2 separate regions of the Homo sapiens genome follow, and region 2 is linked to region 1. Evidence: fine-mapped expression QTL. A gene starts in region 1. The other region holds a variant in brackets. All regions are shown on one strand. Distances are from middle to middle.

Region 1 (5,374 bases):
CTGGTCTCAAACTCCTGACCTCAAATGATCCACCCACTTAGACCTCCCAAAGTGCTGGGATTACAGGTGTGAGCCCCCTCGCCTGGCACTACTATGTCTGTTCTTCTGCAGGTCAAGTTAGGCATGAGAGGGGAGATATCAAGGACCCCATGAAATTGTCAGGAATGGGAGGAGCTTCACCCCCAGGCCCAGTCTTTTGTTTGGCTGGCTGGGTAGAGAAAGGCAGAGGCCCTGGGCCCTGAGATACAGGAGGGGACGCTGGACCTCACCAGGAGAGCACTATATCCGTGAGCGTCTCGGCCGTGGTGAAGAAGGCAAAGACGATCCAGTACATCATCCATTTCACCTGAGGGACAGAGGGAAGCGCTGGCTGGGGCACGGGGCTGAGGGGCCAGGGACACCCAGGACCCCAGCTCTGCCTGTTGAACATGCCTGGGCTGGGGAGAACACCAAGGACCCCACTTCTGCCTGCCAGCCATGTTGGAGGCGCTGTGTGGGACACCCAGGGCCCTCCTTTGCTGGTGGGTCTTGTTAGTGGCTGACAGTGTTGGTGCAAAGTCACCCCCATCTGTAATAGGACCCAGTGCCCTCCCCTCTCTGTGCCATGTGGGTTGGGTAGGGGGTGAAGGGTCATCCACTCACATATTCCTTCACGTTTTTTGTCTTCACGGCCTTGTAGGAAGAATAGGCTGGGTACAGGGTGCCAAAGATGAGCCTAGGGAGGCAGGCATGGTTACTGGGCCTCTCAGCCAAGGGCAGTGGCCTCTCCCTCCCAGCTCCGCATCAGCCCCTGGGTAAGTAATGGGAAGAGAGACAGAACTCCCCGCTGGACTGATGAACTCAGGTCAGGGGTTAAGGTCAAAGCAGCATGGAACATGCCCAGCCAGGTAGGGTGATGCCCCCTCCCCGCTCCACTGTTCAGTTTTTCTCTAGCCCCGGAGGCAGGGAAAGGCCCAGAGGCCAGAGGGTCCAATGTAGTCCCTTGCGCCATGATCCTTGGTTACACACAAATATGTCATGGAGACTGGGAGTCAGGTCACTGCCACAGGGTGTCTTCCTTCTTGACCTCATGCCCATTCACACCCATCTGCCCTTACCCTCCACCTCCCTCAGAGCCAGGCTCTGCGAGGGAACCTGACACCACCTAACAGGGCACCCTACCTGGCAGGCAGAGGTACCACTGTGGCCCTGGGGCCCTAGGGAACAGAGGGCACAGGGGCAGGAGGCCCTGAGAGAGGCAAAGAGGCTTATTCCCCCATGTAAACACCACAGGGACAGGGCTCAGGGGAGGGCCCCGCTGGTGATCCAAGTACAGAATGCAGACAAGACACAGGCCGGGAAAGAAGAGGACCGATGCCCTTTGGGGCTTGCCCAGGCAAGAGAGAAGCAGCCACCCTGAAGGCCACATGGAGGCGTGAGGCCCCTCCATTCCCCCTGGGATGGGTGGGGGAAGAGAAGGAGTCTAGAGTAAACCAGGACAGAAGCACTTGGCCGGCCCGGCTGTACCGAATGGGAAGAAGGGAGCAGGGTGGGGCTGCCGGTGTCAGTCCCCAACGGTGGAGGCCGAGGGGCAGTGTCCTCATTAGGGCAGGGGATAGCTCCGAGAACCACGAGGAGCCCCTGTCAGGCTCAGCCCCTTGACAATGTGTGGCTGTCGCCTGTTTCCACATGGACAGGAGGGATACTTCCAAACCGGCTGGTGCAAGTGGAGTGCGGAGCAGAATCCTCAAGGACAAAGTCTGGGCTCGTGGGGAATGGTGTGTGTTCCCTCCTGGGGCCCGGGGAGGTGCCAGAGACACAGCTCCACAGTGTGGCTGGCAGCCTGGAATGAAGGCCACGGAGCGTCCTCCCCCAGCGGGGTCCACAATCCCAGGCTGAGCACACACATCCCCTCTCCCAGTTACCTCTCACACTTTGTCCTCCGAGCATTTCTGCTTCCCGATACCCAGACTTCCTCCCTAGGGGGCCTAAGGGCATATGCCCTCGTCCCCAGTCTCCTGACAGTGAGTGGAAGGGAGAGACCAAGGGGCCTGGTGATGGCTCTGAGCTGCGGAATGATGATGAGGCCCTGCCTTGCTCCACTCTCTTCCATCACCCTGTTACCTCCCCCAGAGGGACAGGGCCCGGGTCTGAGGATCTCCTCCAGCCCAGACCTGCTAGGTGGGGGAGGGGACGCGCCTGCCTCCCCTTTTAAATCAAGCCGTGCTGCTCAGCCTCTAGGATGGGCGCAGGAGCAAGGACGGTAGAAATAAAAGAGGTTATTAATAAAGAATGTGGGTGAGGTCCCTGGGAAGCCAGGCCTGCCACGCTCCCCTAATATTCCCCCCTCCAGTCCTGGGTGCCACATCTCCATGTCTCTGGGGGCCCCAAATAAGGACGCAGCGCCTTTAGGTGACTCTGCTGCACGAAGCTTCGGAGAAGTCCACCCGGGCTTTAACACCCCCGCCCTCCATCACAGCCCGCATCACCCCCCGCCGCCGCCGCACTCACACCACCAGGCGAGAGATGATCCAGGACACCATGGCGGGGCCGGGCGCGGCGCGGGGCGGGGACCCGGCCCGGCCGAGGATGCAGCTGCCTGAGGCCGAGCGGCGGCGGCGGCGGCAGCAGGAGCCGCAGTAGCAGCAGCAGCCGCTGCAGCAGCCGCCGCGGGGGCAGCGGAGCGCCCAGCGCCGCCGTTAAAGGGGAGGTCCCTGCCGCAGCGGCGGGCCGTGGGCGGTGGCGGCTCTTAAAGGGGAGGCCGGGAGGCCGCCGCGGCGGCGGCGGCGCGCCCCCGCCCCGGCACCTGCTGTGGCCGGGCATGCGCCTCCGACCCTCAGTGCCCTGCCTTCCTCGAATCGCTTGTTCATCTTTCTTGGGTTTCAAGCCCTAGGCTGTTGTCGTGGAGGTCTCCATGGTTACATCCTGAAATCGACCCCTGCCCACCTCCTGCCCTGCCCACACCAGGCGCTTACTGTGTGCCAGCCCCTGTGCTAAGAGCTTCACTGCGTTGCCAGTGAATCCTCTTGACCACCCTATAAGGCAGGCGCTATAAAAGCCCTCATTTTGAAGATAAGGGAATGAGAAGCTTAAGGCTCAATAATCTGTTGAGAGTCACAAAGCCACCAAGTCATGCTGCTAAGATGACCCCAGGAAGCCTACTTTAAACAGGTTACATCCCCCAACTGCTGACTAGCAAACTCTCCTCATTACAGGCCCTGAAGACATCCACCTGAGCTCCTGAGTCACAGGTACAGCCGCACCTGTCCACCCCACTCCTTCTCACCCCGTTGAAAGAGGATCTCCCCTGACCAGATGATGTTTTGTTTTTTTGAGACAGGTCCTCACTCTGTCGCTCAGGCTGGAGTGCAGTGGCACAATCTCAGCACACCTCCTGGGCTTGAATGATCCTCCCGCCTCAGCCTCCCGAGTAGCTGGGACTACAGGCCCAAAACACCACCAGCTAATTCCTGTTTTTTTGTTTTTTGTTTTTTTTTGCCAAGATGGGGTTTTGCAATATTGCCCAGGCTGATCTCCAACTCCTGAGCTCAAGCGATCCACCCGCCTCAGCCTCCCAAAGTGCTGGGATCACTGGTGTGAGCCACCGGGCTGCTGGTCTGCTTTTTTAGGTTGTCAGCTCCTAAGCTTTGCAGCGGAACAGAGCTTTATGCTCTCAATGTGGTTACTGACAACAAAGGGTCAACCTTCTTTTCAAACAGAGGGGCTGCGAGAGGGTCCTGGGGCTCCAGTTCCACCCCCATCAGCAAGCACTAGTGGCAGTGAATGTCCTGATTCTAAAGACATTTATATCCAGAATGTAGGCTAGCCTGCCTCCTGATCTTCAGGAAAGCAACCAACCTCCAACCATCCACCAACACCCCCAGCCCTATTGCTCTCCTTTCCTGTCCCATTTTAGAGCTTCTGCATTCCTCTACCCTTTATGTTGAGTTGTAATCCTTCGGGTGACCACAGCATCAACCTGTGCCCATCTGGGCTGAAAGGACACATTCAGAACTGTGTATTTCAAAGAGTCATGGTCTTATTCAAGCTCAGTATCCCTGAACAACACAATGGTCTATTTCTAACCTGGTAAATTATATTTCCAGGTTCAAACACTTTGGAAGATGTTTCCCAAAACGTTCCAGAAAAGCAGCCTCTGATAACCCCTCTTGCTATTCTTTACAACTTCCTCTCCAGAAAACATCTCCTAATTGGAATGCAGTCTGTTATCACCCCACAATGAAACACTTTAATTACTGCTTGATAAATCCCACATGAGTGTCTCCCACCATCTCTAAGGTGGATCTATGGCCACACGTTTCATGTAGGCAGCCAGGCTGCCTGCTTAAGAATCCCACCACAGACTGTCCAACTTTGCTGAGGCCACACACCATGACCCTTCCCCCCAGACTCTGCCACAGGAAGGGAGGACCCCAACTTTCCCACTCCATTCACAAAGCATAAAGTATGGGGAAACATGTCTCTCTTTCTACCCTCTAATTCATGTGGCCCCTTCCCCTTACCCCCAATTCCCCAAACCATACTGACCTCACCCTGGCACTTTCCTTTTTTCTAACATGGCACAGTCTCAACAAGCAAAGAAAAATATCTGGGTGTAGCACAGTCATGAAGACCTGGAAATGAATCCCCCACCTCCAACCCAACTCCCAATCTGATGTTGATTTTAGAAGGGTTGGTACACGAATAATTTAGTCCACTCCAAACAGATTTGTTAGATTTTTAATAAGAACATGGAAATCCCAATCAGCCCTTCAACAAAATTAAAATACAGAAAGTGAAATTAAAAGTATTCTACATTAAATGACTTTTATTTAAAAAAAAAAAAAAAAGTAACTGTGAACATATAAACAGCCTGCAGGGCACTACAGTACAGCTGGAGAGATATACATTTTCCAATGTACCTATGGGCCAATGAATCCCACCATTTTCAAATAAATCCTTAATCAGACTCCACTCAGTTGGAAAGTTTTGCTGAAAATATTTCTGGATAAAAAACAAAAAACCTCATGTTGGAAATCAACTGTCCTTCCCATTTGGAAACATTAAGAGGAGTCCCCAGGGAACACTGGTAATAGGTGAAAATGGTTCCTGGAGTCACCAGTGTTGTACACACACATGGGGAACACACCACAGCTTAGATGTGACAAAGTTCCTTCTCATATGACTGTTCCCTCAAGGTAAGACTAAGATGGGAGGGGGAGAAAAAGAATCCTAAAAAAGCCAATTTTTAAAAATTCTGCTTTGGCTGATTTTGTGCTATAATGGGTAGCTGATTTCTAAAAATCATATTTCTTCAAAGAGTTTTATATCGAAAGGAAGACTAAATGTAATGTGCCTTTCCTTATAATCCAGGAAAACAACTGTGGTATTTCAA
Region 2 (5,374 bases), 460 kb after region 1:
CTTTGGGAGGTCATGGTGAGAGCGTCATTTGAGCCTGGGAGTTTGAAACCTGCCTGTGCAATGTAAGGAGGAGAACCCATCTGTACAAAAATGGTAAAAAAAAAAAAAAAAAAAAAAAAAAAAATAGCCAGGTGTAGTGGTGCTCCCCTGTGGTCCCAGCTACTTGGGAGGCTGAGGTGGGAAGATCACCTGAGCCCAGGAGGTAAGGCTGCAGTGCGTGGTGATCACACCACTGCAGTTCAGCCTGGGCGACACGGTGAGACCCTGTCTTTGAAGAAAAAAAAAAAACTTTATGAGGGCTGAAATTTTTGTCTGTTTTGTTCTTTATTACATCCCTATTATCTAGAACACTTAGTAGGTATTCATTAAGCATTTGTTGATGTAAGACCAGAATAGCATCTGGCACATAGTAAGCTAGTAAACAACTCGGTAAATAATTTGTTGAATGAAATTGGTGTATTAGGCTGGGCGCAGTGGCTTACGCCTGTAATCCTAGCACTTTGGGAGGCTGAGGCAGGTGGATCGCTTGAGCCCAGGAGTTCAAGGCCAGCCTGGGCAACATGGTGAAACCCCGTCTCTACAAAAATAAAAATTAGCCAGGCTAGGTGGCGTACGCCTGTAGTCCCAGCTACTTGGGAGGCTTAGGTGGGAGGATTGCTTGAGCCTGGGAGGTGGAGGTTGCAGTGAGCTGAGATCGTGCCACTGCACTGCAGCCTGGGTGACAGAGTGAGACCCTGTCTCAAAAAAAAAAAAAAAAAAAAGAAATTAGTGTATCAATTACTTTATAAAGAGAGCAGGAACTAATTCTTTCTAAAATTGTTTTTAGGAAACCTTTATGAATGATGGGTTCTTGGCCTTGAAAAACCTGTCACCATTTCTTCCCCCCAACCCCAGCTAAGAAGTTCAGTGATACTCTTATTATTTGAATAAGTTAGTTCAGTTGGGCAATACACAATAATACCTGTTTACTTGGACAGTATAAGCAAAAATACCTGATTTAAGTTTTCTTTCTTTTTTTTTTTTTTCTTGAGACGGAGTTTCATTCTTGTCGCCCCGGCTAGAGTGCAGTCGTGTGATGTGGGCTCAGTGCAACCTCCGTCTCCTAGGTTCAAGTGATTCTCCTGCCTCAGCCTCTTGTGTACCTGGGATTACAGGCATGTGCCACCACGCCCGGCTAATTTTTTTTTTTTTTTTTTTTTTTTAGTAGAGACAGGATTTCTCCTTATTGATCAGGCTAGTCTCAAACTCCTGACCTCAGGTGATCCTCGCGCCTTGGCCTCCCAAAGTGCTGGGATTATAGGCGTGAGCCACCGTGCCTGGTCGATTTAAGTTTTCAATGACTTGATAATCTAGGTTGTACATGCACATACTTTCTAATACAGAATATGACTAGTGCTATTAGGGCACTATAGTCTTGCAGAAGAGAGGAAAGAACTTCTGGCCAGGGTAGTTATGGAAGGTCTTGGAATGAGGGGGATTTTGAACTTGGCTTTTTATAGGGCTGGATTTGGTTCAAGATTTGTGAAAGAAACTAAAATGAATAGTATAAGTAAAGATTACAGGGTAATGTTGAATGTTAATGAAACAGAGCTACTTGTAGAACTCAGGGTATTGTGGGAGGATATATAGTAGAAGATAATTCTGGAATATTGGTAGATTTGGGTCATACGTAGAGCCTGGAATACTATCTTAAGAATTGTAGATTTTCTCAGTAGAAGAAAAATATAGAAAACTTTGAAGCAGAGGGAATGATGTACCCAGATCTGTATTTTAGGAAGAAGGTTTTTTGTAGTAGTCATAAAAAGTTTGTGGGAAAGACTGGGGGTAAGGACAACAACAATCAGTAGGCTTTTTGCACTGTATTTGGCGAGCACTTAAAATATCTGAGCTGGTGGGCATGGTGGCTCATGCCTGTAATCCTTGCACTTTGGGAGGCCAAGGTGGGCAGATCACCTGAGGTCAGGAGTTCGAGACCAGCCTGGCCAACATGGTGAAAACGCATCTCTACTAAAAATACAAAAATTAGCGGGGCATGATGGCACATGCTTGTAATCCCAGCTACTCGGGAGGCTGAGGCTGGAGAATCTCTTGAACCCAGGAGGAGGAGGTTGCAGTGAGCTGAGATTATGCCACTGCACTCCAGCCTGGGTGAAAGAGTAAGACCCTGTCTCAAAAAAAAAAAAAAAAAGTCTGAACTGTGAGCCCTAGGGAAGGAAGGAAAAATAGAGAAAATTCCAAAGGTGAAAATGATTAAGATTTAGGTGCAAACTGGGGTAAGAAACACAGACACTAAGAGATTGGAAAAGAGGTCAGTGTTGCAGAACTGGAATATCAAGGTGGTTTATATGAAGCAGATGTTCAGGTCTTGAGCTGTGGCTGGTGGTGGAGGCTCATTTTGTCTGTGAGTGAATGCCATTGCCAAAGCAGTGACTTGAATAGAATAAACGGGGATTGAAGAAACCCTTGGGGAACCTCTGTATTCTAGCTCTTTGGAGGAA[A/G]AAAAGCAGCCATGACCATAGCAGTTGGGAATGTCAAAGAGGATGGGATTTTTTCCTGAGTCTGAAAGTTGGTCAAAATAGAGAGGTAAAAGGAGGAAAAAAGGTGGTGGGAGGCAAAGGTACAAAAATAAGAAGAGTAAGTTTAATTTTATTTGCTTGCTAGGGTGGTTAAAAGTCTAATGAAATGGCTTTTTTTTTTTCTTTGCCTTTGCTGTTGAACAAAAAATTTAAGAATACCCAGGAACAATATATTTAATGCTGGTGAGGGTAGGTTAAGGTAAGTGGTCTTATACAGACATCGGAAGTATAAATTGCTGTAAACTTCCTGGAAAACACATTAACAGTAAGAACAAAAGACCTTAAACCTTTGATCCAGAAATTTCAAAATCTAGGACTCTTTCCTAAGGAAATACATACAAATCAGAGGTGTATGCAAAGATTTTTCTACTAGAATTCTTACTGGGGGTTTCTTCATCGGAAAAAAAAATGGGAAACACAAAAAGTCCTAAATGGAAAATGATTAGATAAATCATAGTATATCCATATCATAGGATATAGTTGAGTCATTTAAAATTATTTTAAAGGCCCAAGTAATAGTTGTGAGGTAAAGTTATTTTGAAAAAAAAACAAAAAACAAAAAACAAAACATACAAAACCAAGTGTAGATTACTAAAGCTAATGCAGTCCCAATTTCTTTGTGTGCATGCACTGCATGTGTGTGTGGCACATAGTCAAAAGGCCAAGTCAGAATATTCACAGTGGCCTTCTGTCTGATAGATTGTGGATGATTTTACTTTTCTTCATATGTCCTTATATTTATGTTTCCAACAGTTTCTCTGATTTATAATCAAATAATTAAAGAAAATTTATTGGATTTAGTGATAGAAATTATTGGTAAAGAAAGAGGAGCTTTGGTAGGTAGAGGATTTCATGGTTGAGAATGAATATCAGGTGAGTAGGTAGAAGCTGCAGTGTGTGGAATGCCTTTTGCACAAGTTTTGCATTGAAATTAAAAGGAAAGAGAAGGCCAGGCATGGTGGTTCATGCCTGTAATCCCAGCTGTAATCCCAGCACTTTGAGATATCAGGGAACCTGCTCCCGATAGTCATGTAGGTTCTTTTCTATTTTCCCTAAGCATTGGCTGGGTTGAGAAATAAAGGGACAGAGTACAAAAGAGAGAAATTTTAAAGCTGGGCATCCGGGGGAGACATCACATGTTCGTAGGTTCTGTGATGCCCCCCAAGCTGTAAAACCAGCAAGTTTTTATTAGGGATTTTCAAAAGGAGAGGGAGTGTATGAATAGGGTGTGGGTCACAGAGATCACATGCTTCACAAGGTAATAGAATATCACAAGGCAAATGGAGGCAGGGCGAGATCACAGGACCACAGGACTGGGGTGAAATTAAAATTGCTGATGAAGTTTCAGGCACACGTTGTCATTGATAACATCTTATCAGGAGACAGGGTTTGAGAGCAACCGGTCTGACCAAAATTTATTAGGCGGGAATTTCCTCGTCCTAATAAGCCTGGGAGCGCTATGGGAGACTGGGGCTTATTTCATCCCTACAGTCTTGACCATAGAAGATGGCCACACCCAAGGAGGCCATTTCAGAGACCTACCCTCAGGGGTGCATTCTCTTTCTCAGGGGTATTCCTTGCTGAGAAAAAGAATTCAGCGATATTTCTCCCATTTGCTTTTGAAAGAAGAGAAATATGGCACTGTTCCACCTGGCTCACCGGCAGTCAGAGTTTAAGGTTATCTCTCTTGTTCCCTGAACATTGCTGTTATCCTGTTCTTTTTTCAAGGTGCCCAGATTTCATATTGTTCAAACACACTTGCTCTACAATTTGTGCAGTTAATACAATCATCACAGGGTCCTGAGGCGAAATACATCCTCCTCAGTTTACAAAAATGATGGGATTAAGAGATTAAAGTAAAGACAGGCATAGGAAATCACAAGGGTATTGATTGGGGAGGTGATAAGCGTCCATGAAATCTTCACAATTTATGTTCAAAGATAGCAGTAAAGACAGGCATAAGAAATTATAAAAGTATTAATTTGGGGAACTAATAAATGTCCATGAAATCTTCACAATCCACGTTCTTCTGCCATGGCTTCAGCTGGTCCCTCCATTCGGGGTCCCTGACTTCCTGCAACAACAGTGGCCTTCTGGCTGATAGGTTATGGATGATTTTACTTTTCTTCATATGTTCTTATATTTAGGTTTCCAACAGTTTCTCTGATTTATAATCAAATAATTTAAGCAAAAAATTCCAATTAAAGAAAATTTATTGCATTTAGTGATAGAAATTATTGGTAAAGAAAGAGGAGCTTTGGTAGGTAGAGGATTTCATGGTTGAGAATGAATATCAGGTGAGTAGGTAGAAGCTGCAGTGTGTGGAATGCCTTTTGCACAAGTTTTGCATTGAAATTAAAAGGAAAGAGAAGGCCAGGCATGGTGGTTCACGCCTGTAATCCCAGCACTTTGGGAGGCCGAGGTGGGTGGATCACGAAGTCAGGAGATGGAGACCATCCTGGCTAACATGGTGAAACCCCATCTCTACAAAAATACGAAAAATTAGCCAGGCGTGGTGGCAGGCGCCTGTAGTCCCAGCTACTTGGGAGGCTGAGGCAGAATGGCATGAACCCGGGAGGCGGAGATCGCGCCACTGCACTCCAGCCTGGGCAACAGAGCAAGACTGTCTCAAAAAAAAAAAAAAAGGAAGAGTTGAGCAGTCTGGTTGTGGAAGAGATATTCCCCCCTTCCCCACTCCCGTCCCCCATTTCTGCTTTCTTGATACAGGATGGAGATTTGAGCATGTCAGTAGGAATCACTCACTAGATAGGGAGAGACTAAAAAATGTCAGAAAGAAA

Evidence for each region. PIP is the estimated chance that this variant, and not a neighbour inherited with it, causes the effect.
Region 2: its variant is the best candidate, but not a certain one, in a credible set for the expression of REEP2 in tibial artery (GTEx, PIP 0.58).

Annotation. Positions count from the first base shown.
Region 1 is chr5:138,436,357-138,441,730 of GRCh38, reverse strand. It overlaps REEP2 (receptor accessory protein 2), which reads right to left and starts at 2,674. Exons shown (of 8, transcript NM_001271803.2): 1 at 2,491-2,674; 2 at 643-715; 3 at 270-346. The coding sequence starts at 2,522. It overlaps KDM3B (lysine demethylase 3B), which reads right to left. Exons shown (of 24, transcript NM_016604.4): 24 at 4,704-5,374. RefSeq lists an enhancer at 1,508-2,041 and a silencer at 2,427-2,846.
Region 2 is chr5:137,975,828-137,981,201 of GRCh38, reverse strand. All of the region lies in intron 10 of FAM13B (family with sequence similarity 13 member B), which reads left to right. Among named protein-coding and RNA genes, the nearest start is that of FAM13B-AS1, 54 kb to the left of the region's middle. The variant A/G (reference allele first, on the strand shown) is at 2,499.